2 separate regions of the Homo sapiens genome follow, and region 2 is linked to region 1. The links come from fine-mapping of genetic effects on gene expression. Tissue or cell type: visceral fat. Region 1 holds a variant in brackets; the other region holds the start of a gene. All regions are shown on one strand. Distances are between the middles of the regions.

Region 1 (8,192 bases):
ACCAAGCAGCCCCATCTAGTGGGGGACAGGAGGAGTGAGCGCCCCCCCACCCTGTGCCCCTACTAGAGCCCTGGCACCCACCCACCCCCTCCCATTCCCACCTGGCACTCCCACCAGTCCTGGGTCCTCAGCAGCATGAGAGGCGGCAGGTGGTGTAGAAGGCACGAGGGCTCCAGAGGCAGACAGCATACAATAGGTGTTCACTAAACACCTGTTGAATGTGTGGACCGCTTGGATGCAAACCTAGACCTGTGATGTATGCTCATGACGGTTTTGAGTGAGCTTTTACTATCTCCAAGCCTCTGTTTTCTTATCTAAAAACAGGGGGTAAAAACAGTATTTCAGGGAGCTGTGGTGAAGACTGAGAGACAGAAAGGAGGAAAATGTCCCTGGGACACAGCAAGCCCCAGCAAAAGGCGGCACTCCTCAGCTGTGGTTGTCCGAAACTAAAGGCGGTGGGCAAGTGCAGCCAGAGAAGTCCCCAGAGAAGGCTCTTGAGGAAAAGTGTGTGCAAGTCCCTAGGGCAGAGGTGGAGAGGAGGAAAGGTGTCTACGCCTTCCTTTCAAGGACAGGGGGTGAGGAGACAAGATAGACTCAGGGTGGGAAAGAGGAGCCTCCTTTTTGCTTCTGCACCAAACCCAGGAGAGCTCCACCGAGCTCCGTCTAAGGCAGAGACGACAGGTCTCACTGTGCAAGGCAGGGATGCCCTGGGCTGTGGGAGCTGCCAGTGGGTGGGGCCTGCACACGTGGTCTGGGAGCAGTAACCCTGGAGACATCCTCTAGGCACGTGTGAGGCCTGGGAGACTCGGCAAGGAGGAGGGCTGAGAGCAGTGAAGTGTAGGGACAATGTATTAACAACAGGCTCAAACCCCTGTCCAGAGGCTGGGAGGGCTGTAGCAACTGATTACGGAGGGTCTTGCAAATGACTTACATAAACATGGGAACTGCAGTTGCCAAAACTGTGAACAGCACGATGCAGTCATTCCATGTCTGAGTTAACAAATCCAGGATATAAAAATGATCCAACAGGAGGAAGAACAGGCTAAAACCAGCAAAGATAACATTTGGCAAGGACAAATAGAAAGCCAGAGATTCAGGTCACTAAATGCGGGGTAGGGGAGCAGAAGAGAAGGGCAGGTCCCATGGGAGGAGAGGCAAAGGGTGAATTTTTCTCCAGCAGCTTGGGCGGGGTGGCACCTGGCCAGAGGCTTGTTAGAGTTCGTGATGCTGCATGCTAGGAAAAGATGAGTCTGGCCTGTCCGGGGCCTGCTCTCGGAGACAGGAATGGAAACACAGGGGAGGGGCAGTGGACGCTGATTCGTAGCTGTGTAATTGACAGTTTGGCTGGTCCTTGTCCCTAGGTCCTGGGAGGTTGCCTCTAAACCCTTATTATTCATGGTGGATCCTTGAGCTACAGCCCATGGTTTATGCTAGCAAGGTAACTCAGGATGGGGGGCCACCAGGCCAGAAAGACCAACCGTGTAAGGAGAGGGTTGGGGCTTTGAGATGTCAGCCTGACCCGGGCTAAGGGAGAGGGGCTCGAAATGAAGTCCCGTGAGCTGTGATCCGATCAACCACGCCTACATAATGAAACCCAGTAAGAACTCCAGACGTCACAGCTCCGGTGAGTTTCCCTGGGCGACAGCACTCTGTGCACCGTCACACACAATGTGCGGGAAGACAGTCGTGTCTGGGAATGACGGAAGCTTCGTGTTTGGGACACTCCCAGGCCTCACTCATGCATCTTTCCCTTCGGCTGGTTCTGACTTGTATCTTTGTGTTTATAATAAAACTGTAATCCTAAGCATCGTGCTTTCTTGAGTTCCCTGAGTCATTCCAGTAAATTATCCAGTAAATTACCAAACCCCGATTCCTGAATTTGTAGCCACCCAAGGGTGACCTGCCACCAAACTTGTGGCTGGAGTCTGTAGGAAGACAGTCTTACGGGGACTGTGTCCTTAACCTGTGAAGTGTGGCCCAGACGTCACCGAAACAGTGCTTACTGATTTCCATCGTGTAAACAGTCCTGCCACGACTGTTTCAATGCTCGCTTAAAACAGAACCATCAGCTCCCTCAAGCCAGCGTGGCATGAACCAGTGCCAGCACACGGCCGGGTAGGGGCAGAGCTGAGCGGCTCCAACACAGCTGAGAGGAGGCGGAGACAGAAGCCCCGGGGAGCAGTCAGGAGCATAAGGGAAGAAGCACGGAAAGAAAGGAGCTGTGTCGGAGGAGGCTCAGTCGGCAGAGGCTCTGAGATAGAGAAAAGATGTGTAGATGGGGAGGAGGGAGGGAAGCCAGCTCAGAGAGAGTGGTGGTGCAAACAGGCCCAACGTTCTTCCCATGGGCCAGGCACCACCCCAGGACAACTCCAAGAGGTCGGTGTAAGGTCGGTGTAGTCATCAGCTGGAGAGCCTGGGGCACCGAGGTCCAGCCGCTTGAGAAAGTCCTGCCGCTTGTCAGCGAGGAAGCCAGGATTTACACCCAAGCCTGCACACCATGCCACATGTGTCCCCACTGTGACCTGGACTTCATTTCCGCTTCTGTTGCATTTTCCCCAATCTGCACTCCCTTCTGTAATGGTGCAATCCTTCATGGGCACATGATTCCAGTCCTCGCTTCCCTGATGACTTCCTGGAACCCCACTAAACTGGGGCTCAGAACTGAAACCATTTCCCCACCCTCGGATTAAATGCACTGCAATAGGGCTGGGCGGTCACTTTGCGGCAGGCTGCTTCATCAACAGTGTGAGGCAGATACGCAGAGAGGCACCCTTTACGGAGGCCCAGCTATGTGCCAGAGGCCGTGTGTCCATGAGCACATCCAATCCTTATCAAGCAGAATGGCTGTGGCTATCCCTGGTCTTTAAGGAAAGACCTCAGGGCCCTGGAGTGCTTGCCAAAGCCAAGCGCTAGACAGCATGGAGGACTGGACGGACGCCGGCCCTGTCTGTCTGCATCAGAAGCCCAGAGGACTCCACGTGTCCTGCTACTCATTTTGGGAGCTTCAGGCAGGGTGAGGGAATGAAGCATCTGGGGATGCACAGTCCAGCAGCGACGTTCGGGACAATAACAAGGGCAGATCCGGGTCTCTGGTTCCAGCAGCCTCCTGTGCCCACAGTGCAGATGCTGGGATGGTGCTCCCCGTGCTCTCCACACGGCCTCCAGAGGCAGAGCTGCTGGGTGTTGTCTCCTCAGGGAACCCCCCCACCCCCCGCCGTGCGCCTCTGGAATCATCTATTGATGGAAATGGCTTCCACATCCTGACAGGGTGTTACTTCTCCTTCTCTCTATGTCTACTAAAAGCCCACACACTTTGTTGCTGTTGCTTTCTTTTTAAAAGCTTGGCTATAAGCGAAATACATTCTGGCCACATTTCCCCCCCACACAGAAGGCAATTTCAGAAGTCTTTGGGGGTCCCTGGAGGGTGCCCACTTGCCGTGGCTGCTCCAATCCCACGTACGACATTCATGACTCAGACTTGAGGGGACCAGGAGACACTCTGGAAGTGACATGGTGATCCTAGGTTTTCACTAAGTCTGTAATTTAGAAATCCACATGTGGTGCTATCAACACAATTGCCTACCACATAGCTGACATTTAAAACCCACGCCACGTCCCTGGCGTATCGCGGTGGTGGTGCCACACCGTCCTGAGGCTGACAGGGCTCTCTTGATGGTGCAGCCCTCTCTGCGGAGCCTCCTGATCCACTGTCCACATCCACGCATTGGCCACAGCAGATCTGGGCCCTCGGCAGAGAGACCGAGATGAAACAAGCCAGTGCGGTTCTAAGTATAGTTCTATTGGAAAGTGTTTATTATATAAGAGCTAAATTATAAATCAGAGCCTGTATATAAAACAAAGCATTTGGCAGTGACTAAAATATCTCCTCCTCTGCTGTGTTTCATCCCAAGAGACACACAGTGTGGTGCTTTGGGGCAGGGTCCTTGTGGGCTGCACAGATCCCGGGACCCATCAAGATCATTCCTTTATTAATTTTTTTATTTTTTTATTTTTTTTGAGACAGATTCTCACTCTGTCACTCAGGCTGGAGTGCAATGGCGCGATCTCTGCTCACTGCAACCTCCACCTCTTGGGTTCAAGTGATTCTCCTGCTTCAGCCTCCTGAGTAGCTGGGACTACAGGTACATGCCACCACACCGGGCTAATTTTTATATTTTCAGTAGAGATGGGGTTTTGCCATGTTGGGCAAGATGGTCTTGAACTCCTGACCTCAGATGATCCACCTGCCTCGGCCTCCCAAAGTGCTGGGATTACAGGCGTGAGCCACCACACCTGGCCCATCAAGATCATTCCTATCCAAGCTTCATTGCCTAAATCTACGTTTGTCCCAAAAGGTGTCTCGTGTGAGAC[A/G]TTGGGGTCCTTCTTCCCCTCATTCTTTATACTTCATGATGAAAACTATTAGTGGATTGAGAAAGAGGAACACAACAGAAGGACCCAAACAAACAAAAAGCCTGAGAATGAAAGATATTAGGCATCTTTCTAAAATTAAGGCACAGCTTCTGTTTGCAGCAATACGGTAGACTGAGGTATTAAAATCTCCCACTACAAAACACCTAGACATGCTGGATAAAGTATGTGTCCCTCTAAATGCATGCACGAGTCCACAGAAAAGTAAAAAGACTGAAGGCCAAATATGTTAGAGAGTGTGTTATTTTTCTATCCTGCCATTTAAAAATCACCATAATCTTAGTGGCTTGAGATAACGCAAATTTACTATCTTACAGCTCTGGAGGTCAGACATCTGACGCAGGTCTCACTGGGCTGCATTCCCTAAGGGAAAATCCATTTCCATAGCTTTTTCCACTTCTAGGGGCCACTGACATTCCTTGGCTTGTGGCCCCTTCCTCCATCTCCAGAGTCTGCAGCGGTGCATCTCTGGCCATTCTTCTGTCATCAGATCTCCTCTGACTCTCTTGTGCCTCTCTCTTTCACTTGTACGAAACTTTGTGATGACACTGGGCCCACTCTGATAATCCAGGGCAATCATTCCATCTTAAATCAAATGATTAGCAATGGTAATTTTATCTGCAATTTGCATGCCATCTAGCGTATTCTCAGGTTCTGGAGACTAGGATGTGGGCATCTTTGGGGCAGGGGGCATTACTCTACCTACCACCGAGAAAAAACTGAAAATCAAAAACGTATAAGTGTGGCTGACACTTTGGCTGCCTTGGATGGGGAGGCTAGCAGTTTCCAAAGGGCTTGTTTTCACTAACCATGAAGGCAAGCAATGTGGCCCAGGCCCAGAGGAGGGGAGTTAGAAACAAGGCCACCCCACAAAGAGGATCATCAAAGGGCTATACTTTCGGAGAATAAATAAAAATCTGTTCATTGACCAAAAGTGGCCACAAAAGACTATGTCTGTCTCAGATTGTCTCAAAATGTTTCCATGAGAATGCACAGCCTCAGGCCTGCCTGAAAGCATTGTCAAGGAATCCCACTGTTGAGAAATAATAAGAAAATAGCAATTTCAAGCTGTTAACACCCCTGGGGTGTCTGGCAAGAGCAAATCCAAAGCTCCTTTGAGGAACATACCCTCAGTCTGGGCTGCACATGTTCTACAAGTAAAGCTCCACCAACAGAGACGCATGCCCCAAAACCACAAAGCAAATGAGGAAACAAGCCATGGTGAGCAACAGTCCAAGCAACAGTGCACCAAAGAACTCAACTCCTGGGAACTCCAAACAACAAAACACACAGAGGTGGATTATAAAATAAGTATGCTTACAGTCGTTCGATAAAAGGAGTCAAGGGATGATACAGGAGCAAGACATTGTTAAGATAAAGACCAGGCTTGTTTGAAAATGAACCAAATAGTGTTTATAGAATTGAAAACAACAATTATTGAAATGATGGACATGTTTAGTAGCAGATTAAATATAGCTGAAAAGAGCAATAGTGAACTGGAAACTAGATTGAAGAAATTTCCCAGAATGCCACTCAAGAGACATAAATAGGTGAAAAGTTTGAAAGAAAAGATAAAAATCAGAGAATGAAGACAGAAGATCCAGTTCCAGTTTACTAGAAACTCCTAAATGAGTAAATGAAGACAACAGAGAAAAGCAATACTCAAGAAAAAAATGGCTGAGAATTTTCCAGAATTGATGAAGGATATGCATCTTCTAATTCAGGGAGGTTTTTCTATGAGCTGTAAGTAAAATAATTAAAATTTATGAAATAGGAGAACTTCAAGACCAAGAGCAAGGACAGCCAGACAGAAATGATAAATTGCCTACAGAGTGAGAATAGAATGACCTCAGACTTCTCAATAGCAATAACCAAAGTCTAAAGACAACAGAATAATATCTTCAAAGTGCCGGGAGAAAATAACCACTAATATGGAGTTCTATACTCAACTAAATTATTTTAGAATGAGGGTAACCTCTAGATCTAACTACAAATATGCAGGAAAAACAGGGGATAGAAGAACATGCTAAATGATACCACAGGAACGAGATCAGCAACATTCAGATTGTGGGAAATTCTGCAGGAAAAACAATTCAGTTTCTTCAAGAAATAAACTGCAAGAAAAAAATTTAAGAAAGACACAGGAAGAGAGGGAGAGAGGGAGAACCTTAAAAGATACTTAAGAGACAAATCAGTCCATCTCAAGGAATAAACATTATTTGAATAGATTCACACTACTTCAAAATTTATATTTATGAGACAATTGAAAATTTGAATGCTGATTGGATATTTGAAAATTATAATGCATCATTGATAAATTTTTAGCTATTTTTATGGTATTACGTGTTTTTTTTTAAAAAAAGAATCCATATGTTTTAGAGATATATACTGATGTGATGAAATGAAACTGGACTGGAAATGAGGTGTTAAAAATTTTGAGGTTGGATACATTGTGGTTCATTATTCTATTTTTGTGGTTGTTTGAAGTTTTCCTCTATACAAGTATAATAAAAATAATAGTAGTTATAATAAAAGGAAGTGTTAGTTAAAAAGGCTTCTTCCAAGAATATGGGTAAGTAAATAGTGCTATATTAATATCAAGAAATATTGTGAAGAGTTAAAATTAAAGAAGCAGATTCACTTGTAGCAACATGAATAAATCACTTAAAATGATTGAGGGAGCAAGTTGTGGAATGATACAGTATGACACTATTTATATTGCAAAAGAAAATAAAATTTTAGGACCCTCTAAATGTATTATGCCAAGGGAGAAGTTGAGCCCCGAGACTGAGTCACACTGCCTGTTTGCAATTCTGATGCTTAGATTATAGTACCACTCTCTCTTCATTGTTCTTGTTCTGTAAATGACTAGGAAAGACTGGTGACCAGACCTCCCATTTCCAATCACCAATCTTTGGTGGGGAGAGTGTGGGACACAAGGGAGTCAGCGGGAGGGTTTTAGGTTCTGCCCTGGAGGAGCACTTGGAGGGGCCTAGCTCCCAAGCAGAAGTGGACCCTGGATGCCCAAGGCTGACCGGCAGTCATAAGAAGCTGCCTGGTGGAGAGGCACTGCCCGTTTCTTGGTAAGTTTGGTTGGAGACTCCCTGTTTGGGAAAAGCCCTGAGAAAGAACCCCCAGGAGGGAGGGTCCATTTTGCATCTGTGTCTGCCCAGGCTGAAGAGGCTCAGGCCAAGTCTCCGAGGCATCAGTCAAGTGGCTCCTGTCCCACCCCAACTCCTCTTCCTCCCCCAGCTCCAAACCAGAGGAGCCTGAGAGCCTAGGGTGGGAGTGGGGTAGGGCAAGGCAGGAAACAGAGAGGTCAACGGCACCCAGCCCTGCTGGCATCCAGCCTCCACCGCCCTGAGCTGAGGGAGGAGAGATGCTCAGCTTTAAGCAAAGTTTTCTTTACACAGGACTGCATGTTTTCATTATTAAATGAGAGTGTGGCAGTGGCTAAAAGTCACTGGAGAACTTTTTCTTTCCAGGAAGTGACCTAAGATGTATTGAGCCTGGGTGCAGTGGCTCGCACATGTAATCCCAGCACTTTGGGAGGCAGAGGTGGGCGGACCACATGAAATCAGGAGTTTGAGACCAGCCTGGCCAATGTGGTAAAACCCTGTCTCTACTAAAAATACAAAAATTAGCTGGGCTTGGTGGCACACACCTTTAATTCCAGCTATGCGGGGAGGCTAAGGCAGGAGAATCACTGGAACCTGGGAGGCAGAGGCTGCAGTGAGCCAAGATGGTGCCACTGTGCTCCATCC
Region 2 (8,142 bases), 42 kb after region 1:
AAAATCAGAACCCTCTTATGATAATGGTGGGGATGTAAAATGGTGCAGATACTCTGGAAAACAGTCTGGCAGTTCTTCAAAAGGTTAAATATAGAATTACTATTTGACCCAACAGTTCCACTCCTAGATACATATCCAAGAGAAATGAAAACACATGTCTACACAAAACCTTACACACAAAAATTCACAGCAGCATTATTCATTACGGCTAAAAGGTGGAAACAATCCAAATGTCTATGAACTGATGAATGGATAAGCAAAATGTGGTATAGTCATACGCTGCAATATTATTTGTCCATAAAAAGAATGAGGTACTGATACATGCTACAACATGAGTGAACCTTAAAAACATTATACTGAAATGTTTAAAGTGAAAGAAACCACCCATAAAAGACCACATATTACATGATTCCACTTATGACATGTCCAGAATAGGCCAATCTATAGATACAGAAAGTAGCTTGGTGGTTGCTTAAAGCAGGGGGAATAGGAGAGTTGGGGGTGATAGCTGATGGATATGGGATTTCTTTTTGAGGTCATGAAAATGTTCTACAAGTTGACTGCGGTGATGGTTGTATACTTCAAATGGATGAATTATATGATATGTTAATTATATCTTAAGAAAGCTGTTACTCCCTGCATAAAAAGAAATCACAATAAATGTAAATAGACTAAATTATTCAGTTAAAACACAAAAGTGATGAGCCTCTAACATGGCTCAGCATGACACAGACAGGGCTGGGCTGGGGAAAGTTACTAAGACTCTCTTTGGTATCTGCCCAGCTTTCTCACCACTCCAGCTCTCAATCTCAGAAACAGTGGGCCAGGAGCACTGTCATTTCTCTACTCTTATACTCACTCCTTCTGGAGACCTGAAAATGAAGACATTCAGACTAAACTGGAATGAGTCCATCTCCAAGGGGTCACTTCTGCCTAACAAATAAGTGGCCCCCAAAGAGTTCAGGTCTCTAAAGGGGCCCACTGAAGGAATGACTGGTAACAAGAACTACTGGGAAATGGGCCACTCCTCAAGCAAATCCAGCTACTGAATTGGGTACAATCAGCACAAGGGAACTGGAGGTAGAAATGATACAGATAGTTTTCATCACTTTCTGGTGGTGGGCCATGGAACTATACAGTCAGGCACAGTACTTAGAGTTTGCTTGGATGTTAAGAGCACAGACTCTGGAGTTTGAATCTGGGCTCACAGTTTACTAGCTGAATAACCTTTGGAAGTTAGGTCCCACTATGCCTCAGTTTCCTCACCCAAAAAATGGAGAAATAAGTTTCACGTAAGACTTGAAACTGTGCCTGGCACATGAAAAGAGTTCTAGAAATACTGATCGTTATTATTTGTTATTATTACAGTTTCATAACACTAAGCTCATTTGACCTTATCATAACCCATGAGAGGAATGGCGATTGCTAATCTCCTTTACGGATGAGAAAACTGAGGTGCAGAGAGAATGAGTGACTAGCCCAAGGCTCCACAGGTGGCTGCAGAGGGCCAGCATTGGAGGACATGACTCCTGTTTCGGCCATCCTGCTGCTCTACCACACCCTAAATAGCATCTAGTGACCCAAATTATGATTTCTACTCTGCCAATCACCAGCTGCCTGACCTTAGGCAAGTCGCTTAGGTAACCACCCAACTCTTTCCATCTGTAAAATGAGAGGTGAGCTATGTAGGTGAACACTAAGAGCCCTTGTTTAGCTAACATTCTGTGATTGCAAGGGGAGCGCAAGTGAACTGGATGTGATGGGCCACAGAACAATGAGCAACCTGGAGAGCGGGAAGAGAGGGTTTTTCTAGAACCATGTGTTCGAAATTGGGAGTCCTCAGAGGGGCTGCAGGAAGGTGAGAGTCCCCACAAGTACCATATTTGAGGGTTGGGGTAGTGCCACCTGGAGAGTAAAGGGAAAGAACTTTTTCCTTTATTTCTTTTACTCTCCAGGTCCTGTGTGCGCTTGGTGAGAAGGCAGCAAGTGAGTCAGTTGTGACTCTCTGCTCCGTGCCCCAGGGCCCTGGGTGTGGTGAAGGAAGCTGTCTGAGCAGTGGGCAGGAGGGGCTGAGCTCAGGGTGAGGGCTGGCGGCAGGGGCGGGTGAATGGAAAATACCCATCTGAACTGCCACACATCCTGACTGGATACAGGCTTTAACACGGTCCGTCTCAAAGAAACCTGTGCCCATGGAACAAACTCTGGGTGAGGTATGAGGATAAAAGCAGATGGCAGTAGGGGCGGATAAAAGAAAAATTAAATTACACTTCAGAAAGCAGGCTGTATTGAACCCATCAACAGCAAATAACAAAACACTTTTTACTGTATTTGAAAGTTGCCATCCTGATATCTTATCAGATCCTACAAAGAAAATCATTTTTGAGCCCTCTAAGCATTGGGGTGGGGGTGGCGGTTTGGAACTGTATAGGGTTGGCGTGGCGGACTTGAGGAGGGACGGTTGGGACTTCCTGGCATTAAAATTAAATTAAATTTTAATTCCCGGCCGAATTAAAATTGCTCCTCGCACGCCCGTTTTTCCATTAATGAGGGTTGGGGCTTCTCCCTCACGTTCATTGACTGAATGGCTGATGGAACGAATGAATGACTGAAGCCCAGGTGGGTAGTTAGAAGAGGCTTCGATGGAGAAGGGTCTCGAAAGACCGGAACTCTGGGCAGAAGGACAGGCCTGGGTGGGAGGAGAAGGGGGCGTTCTCGGAAGACACCAAAAGCCCCCATACCAGAAATAACAGTGCGTGCTGGGCCGGGCACCCGGGGAGGCGGACGATGGGCGAAGGCATCGGAGGGCGCCGCCGCGGCTCGGGTGCAGTGCCCCTGCCACGAAGGGCGCAACGGAGGTGGGCGTGGGAAGGACAGCACTCAGGCTCCAAGTGGGAAGCGTGCGGAATTCGCCGGCCCCAACGCCCTAGCGGGTGGCTGGGACCCCTGGGTTCCTCCCACGTCCCTGCCTCCAGTCCCGGCGCGAACTCCAGGTGTCGCCCCCAACTCCGGCTTAGAGCCTACGGCACCCCGAGCCTCCGAGCCTCCGTCCCCTCTTCCCCCGCCATTACAAAATACAAAAAGGACTAGAAATGAATACACACGGTCTCGGCCACCTAAGGACACCGAGCTCCGCAGAGCCTAGAGGAGCTAGGGAACCTAGCGCTCCCCTCGGGCCGGCCCCAGGCAGCAGCCCCCCTCAGCCCCAACTCCGCGGGTCCCGCCAGCTCTCCACTCCCAGGCCCCGGCGGCGTCCACCAGGCGCCCGCTGCCCCTCCCCAAGTCTCCTCCTCCGGGACCTCAGCCCTGGTGCCCTCCCCGCAGTCCCATTCCTGGTTTCCCTTCGCGGCGCCCCCTCCCCAGGTTCCCCAACCAGGCAATCCCTGCCTGGGTCCCTCCCCGGGACCAGTCCCTGGAGACCCTGCCCGCCGCCTCTCTCGGGCTACCACTCTCCGAAACTCCATCCCTGACTCCCCTCCCCGCTACCTCCTCCCCAGGGGTCCCGGCTGGGGCCCCTCCAGGGGACCCCTCCCTGCCGCCACCTCCCGAGACACCCATTTCCCCCGCCTCTTCCCAGCCGTTCCTTTCTGGCCCCGTTCCTCAGCTCCCTCTGCCTGCTGCCCCTCTCCGGGGTCCGCTTCCCGAAGACCCCTCCCCAACGCCCCCGCCCCGCTCCCGGTTCCTGCCTCCTCCACCCCGGATCGCCTTTCCGGCGTCCTCTCCCCAGCGCCCCTTCCTGCGAACCTTAACCGGACAACCCCAGTCCAGCTCCCCCAACCCACCGCGGCGCCCAGTGCCCGGGGATCCCTGCCCGCCGCCCCTCCCTGGGACTCCCCAACCCCGCGCCCCTCCCTGGCGCCCTCCCGCCCGCGCCGTCAGCCTTCTGGGCAGCAGCCCGGGCTGGCTCCCTCCCGGGGCGGCGCGCGCTACCTGGATCTCGTGGATGCGGCTGAAGCCGTCCCTGCAGAAGAACTCCGCCAGGTTGGCGAGGGTCCTCGGCCCCGGCATGGCGGCGAGGCTCCGGGGACCCTCGGCTCGGCCCCCTCCCGGCGGCGACCCCGGCCGCCCGGCGCCTTTGTCCTCGGCCCGCGCCCCCGCCGGGAGCCGTGCGCCCGCGGGTTGAGGCCGCCGCGGGGCCCCGCCGCCCAGGAGCCCACCCCGCTCGGGCGCCGGCCGCAGCCCGGCTCTCAGGATCCGCGCCAGCAGGGCCATGGCGCTCGTCTGCATCGGCTTGTTTGTCTGAGCAACTTTGTTTCGGGGGCTGCTCTTTGGGTTGCTGTTTCCTGCGTCTTAACTTGTCAGAGCAGTGCTTCTCCGTACTCCTGCCGCCGGGGCGTCAGTTTACACAGACCCTTATTAAAGGCTCCCTCCCCTGGGGCTGGGGAAAAGGCTGTGATTAGACTGCAAGAGAATGAGGCTATTATTATTTCTTCACATCATATTAATTCACACTTAAGCGTTCCTTGAAACCACCAAGTTTTAAGGTCAACCCCACTTCCAACCATGGCCAAAAAAAGAAAAGTCTACGGGGATCTTGTAAATTATTACCGTCCTTCGAAATGACTACTGAAGGTATACTGAAGAAATCTTTGGTCTTTTTTGCATTTTAGAAGCAGTTCTTTATGGTTTCAACTTAAATTATTGTAACTCAACTTTCAAAGGGGGGGAAAAAAGTGAGACGATTTTGCATGTAGTTCCTACTGTTGTAAAATGACCACATTATTATCTTGCCACAAGCTTTCTTAAAGACAATCACAGTCGTTTACGATGGCTTTCCTCGGGCTCATCGCTTTTATTCCGCACACCATTGGAAGCAGTGAGGACTAGGTGAGGGTGAGCGACTTTGAGCATGGGGCGTTTATCTGGTCCCTCACAAGGACGGGTCCTGTTGCACAAGGCTTGGGGAAGAGAAGCCACCTCCATGCCGAGGCGAGGAGAGGAGTCCGCCAACCTAGACTCAGAGCCCAGTGCCTGGCTGCACAAAGAAGTGGCCGCACAGGGAGGGATGGAGCACGGGAAAGGCCAGAGGTGTGCCATGTGGTTTCAAGGAAGGGAACTTTTTCCTAGTCAGTAGTTAAACTGCTCGCTGAGTTACATTATTTGAAGATTTCATACCGTTGGTACTCATGCATCTAAACGTAAAAAATAAGATTTTTTTCCGTTTACAACGTATTGTTACTAAGCATTTTTTTTTTTTTTTTTTTTTTTTTTGAGACAGTCTCGCTCTGTCACCAAAGCTGGAGTGTAATGGCGCGATTTCGGCTCAGCAACCTCCGCCCCCAGGGTCCTAGCGATCCTCTTACCTCAGCCTCCCGAGTAGCTGGGATTACTGACGCTGTAATCTTGAAAAAAAAAAAATGCTGCCGCGCCCGGCCAACATTTATTTTTTAAGAGCAGAGAGGGAGGTTCAGGCCTGTAGTCCCAGAACTTTGAGAGGCCGAGGTGGACGGATTACTTGAGTTCAGGAGTTCGAGACCAGCCTGGCCAACATGGTGAAACCCCATCTCTACTAAAAATATAAAAAATTAGCCAGGCGTGGTGGCACGCGCCTGTAATCCCAGCTACTCGGGAGGCTAAGGCAGGAGAATCGTTTGAACCCAGGAAGTGGAGGTTGCAGTGAGCTGATCTCGCCATTGCACTCCAGCCTGGGTGACAGCAAGACTCCATCTCAACAACAACAACAAAAAAGAGCAGGCCGGGCGCGGTGGCTCACGCCTGTAATCCCAGCACTTTGGGAGGCCGAGGCAGGCGGATCACGAGGTCAGGAGATCGAGACCATCCTGGCTAACACGGTGAAACCCCGTCTCTACTAAAAGTACAAAAAAATTAGCCTGGCGTGGTGGTGGGCGCCTGTAGTCCCAGCTACTCGGGAGGCTGAGGCAGGAGAATGGCGTGAACCCGGGAGGTGGAGCTTGCAGTGAGCCGAGATCTTGCCACTGCACTGCAGCCTGGGCGACAGAGCGAGACTCCGTCAAAAAAAAAAAAAAAAAGAGCAGAGAGGGGTCTGGCAGTGTTGCCCAGGCTGGAGTGCAGTGGCTATACACAGGCACTATCACTGGGCACTACACCTTCCAACTTCTGGGCACTACACCTTCCAACTTCTGGGCTCAAGCCATCTCCAACCTCAGCCTCCCAAGGAGCTGGGAGTACGGGCACATGCCACCATGCCCAGATAAAAATATTTTATTTTATTTTTTAGACACTGGGTCTCACTATGTTGCCCAGGCTGCCCTTGAACTCCTGGGCTCAAGCGATCCTCCCCCTGAGTAACTGGCATTACAGGTGCAGGCCACCGGCTCAGCTAAATATTTTATTTTTAATGAGTAGTTTATACCTTTACAACTCTGTAAAATCTACACTGCATTTGAATAATTGAAGTATCACGTAAGTGACGCAAAGAAGGCTATAGTTACTCAACTTACAGAATTTGATTAATAACACCAGGTGCGGTGGCTCACGCCTGTAATCCCAACAATTTTGGAGGCCACAGCAGGAGGATTGCTTCAGCCCAGGAGTTCAAGACCAGCCTGGGCAACATAGCAAGACCTGGATACTACAAAAAATAAAAATAAAAAAATTAGCTGGGTGTGGTGGTGTGTGCCTATAGTCCCAGCTACTCAGGAGGCTGAGGCAGGAGGATTGCTTGAGCCCAGAAAGTCAAGACTTCAGTGAGCCATTATCATGCCACTGTGCTCCAGCCTGGGCAACAGAGCAAGACCCTGTCTGTAAAAAAAGAAAAGAATTTGATTAATAAGTACTCAGCAACTCTTATTTATTTATTTATTGAGACGGAGTCTGGCTCTGTCGCCCAGGCAGGAGTGCAGTGGAGCAATCTTGGCTCACTGCAAGCTCCGCCTCCCAGGTTCACGCCATTCTCCTGCCTCAGCCTCTGGAGTAGCTGTGACTACAGGCACCCGCCACCACGCCCGGCTAATCTTTTGTATTTTTAGTAGAGACAGGGTTTCACTGTGTTAGCCAGGATGGTCTCGATCTCCTGACCTCGTGATCCGCCTGCCTCAGCCTCCCAAAGTGCTGGGATTACAGGCTTGAGCCACTGCACTCGGCCCTTGCAACTCTTAATTATAAGGCATGATAGCTGCAAAGTACTCAGTAAGACTTTGATCCTGCCTTTAGGAGGCCATAACCTATTTGAAGAATAAAACAGGTACACAAATACAAGCCAGATTACTATAAGTGTCACAAAACTGGACTGAATATGATTGGAATTTGTGGCAAGAAGCGATCACATCTAGTTATAGGGTAGGATGGAGCAGTGCAAAAGAAAGTCCTCCTGAAGGAAGTAGCACTCAGGCAGGGATTGAGGAAAGGAGCCGTTTAGCAGGCAGAAGTGGGTGGCAACACGGCTAGCCAGCAGAGGATGAAGAATGGCACAATCGCCTTGCTCTAGGAGAGGCTTTTAAAGTTTTGCAGAGGGCTACTGGTCCTTAAGAAATCATTAAAGGACCGCATATGTAGAAGTCAATTCATTCCATTCTGGACGTGAAACTATTCAATATAGATAAACAATGATTGATGGTTGTTAAATAATCATATATTAAACTGTTCAATATAGGTAAACAATGATTTTAAAGGCAGCTGGTTCTCTATGAAGGCTAATTAAGGAAAAGACTGCAGTAAAGAAAGGAAGGAAGAGGAGAAGGAAGAATACAGAGAAAGACAGGGGGAAGAAAGATTTAAACACACATGGAGACAGGCTTCTCTGGAGCTCCCTGCAGCTCCCCCGCTCTCCTGTGTCTTAGGATATCATCTCTGCTGATGTCTGAAGCTAGTTTCCATAATTAAATAAATAAACAAAGATAGTAGTTCTTGAAATTTGCCTCAAGCTCTAATGATATTAAGCCTAAGGCTTTTTTTTTTTTTAATTATACTTTAAGTTGTGGGATATATGTGCAGATCGTGCAGGTTTGTTACATAGGTATACTTGTGCCATGGTGGTTTGCTGCACCCATCAACCCATCATCTAGGTTTTATGCCCCACATGCATTAGGTATTTGTCGTAATGCTCTCCATCTGCTTGCCCCACAACCCCCAACAGGCCCCAGTGTGTGATGTTCCCCTCCCCGTGTCCAAGTGTTCTCATTGTTCGACTCCCACTTATGAGTGAGAATATGTAGTGTTTGGTTT

Direction of the effects. Alleles are on the strand shown, and positions count from the first base shown. SD is a standard deviation of normalised expression in the study named.
For the expression in visceral fat of the gene that starts at base 4,238 in region 2, allele G in region 1 goes with a lower level than allele A (small effect, 0.25 SD a copy in GTEx).

The links. PIP is the estimated chance that this variant, and not a neighbour inherited with it, causes the effect.
Region 2: CYP27C1 starts here. The variant in region 1 is fine-mapped to the expression of CYP27C1 in visceral fat (GTEx, PIP above 0.99).

What each region holds. Positions count from the first base shown.
Region 1 is chr2:127,174,368-127,182,559 of GRCh38, forward strand. No RefSeq gene overlaps it. Among named protein-coding and RNA genes, the nearest start is that of CYP27C1, 42 kb to the right of the region's middle. The variant A/G (reference allele first, on the strand shown) is at 4,372.
Region 2 is chr2:127,216,062-127,224,203 of GRCh38, forward strand. It overlaps CYP27C1 (cytochrome P450 family 27 subfamily C member 1), which reads right to left and starts at 4,238. Exons shown (of 9, transcript NM_001367502.1): 1 at 3,928-4,238. The coding sequence starts at 4,209.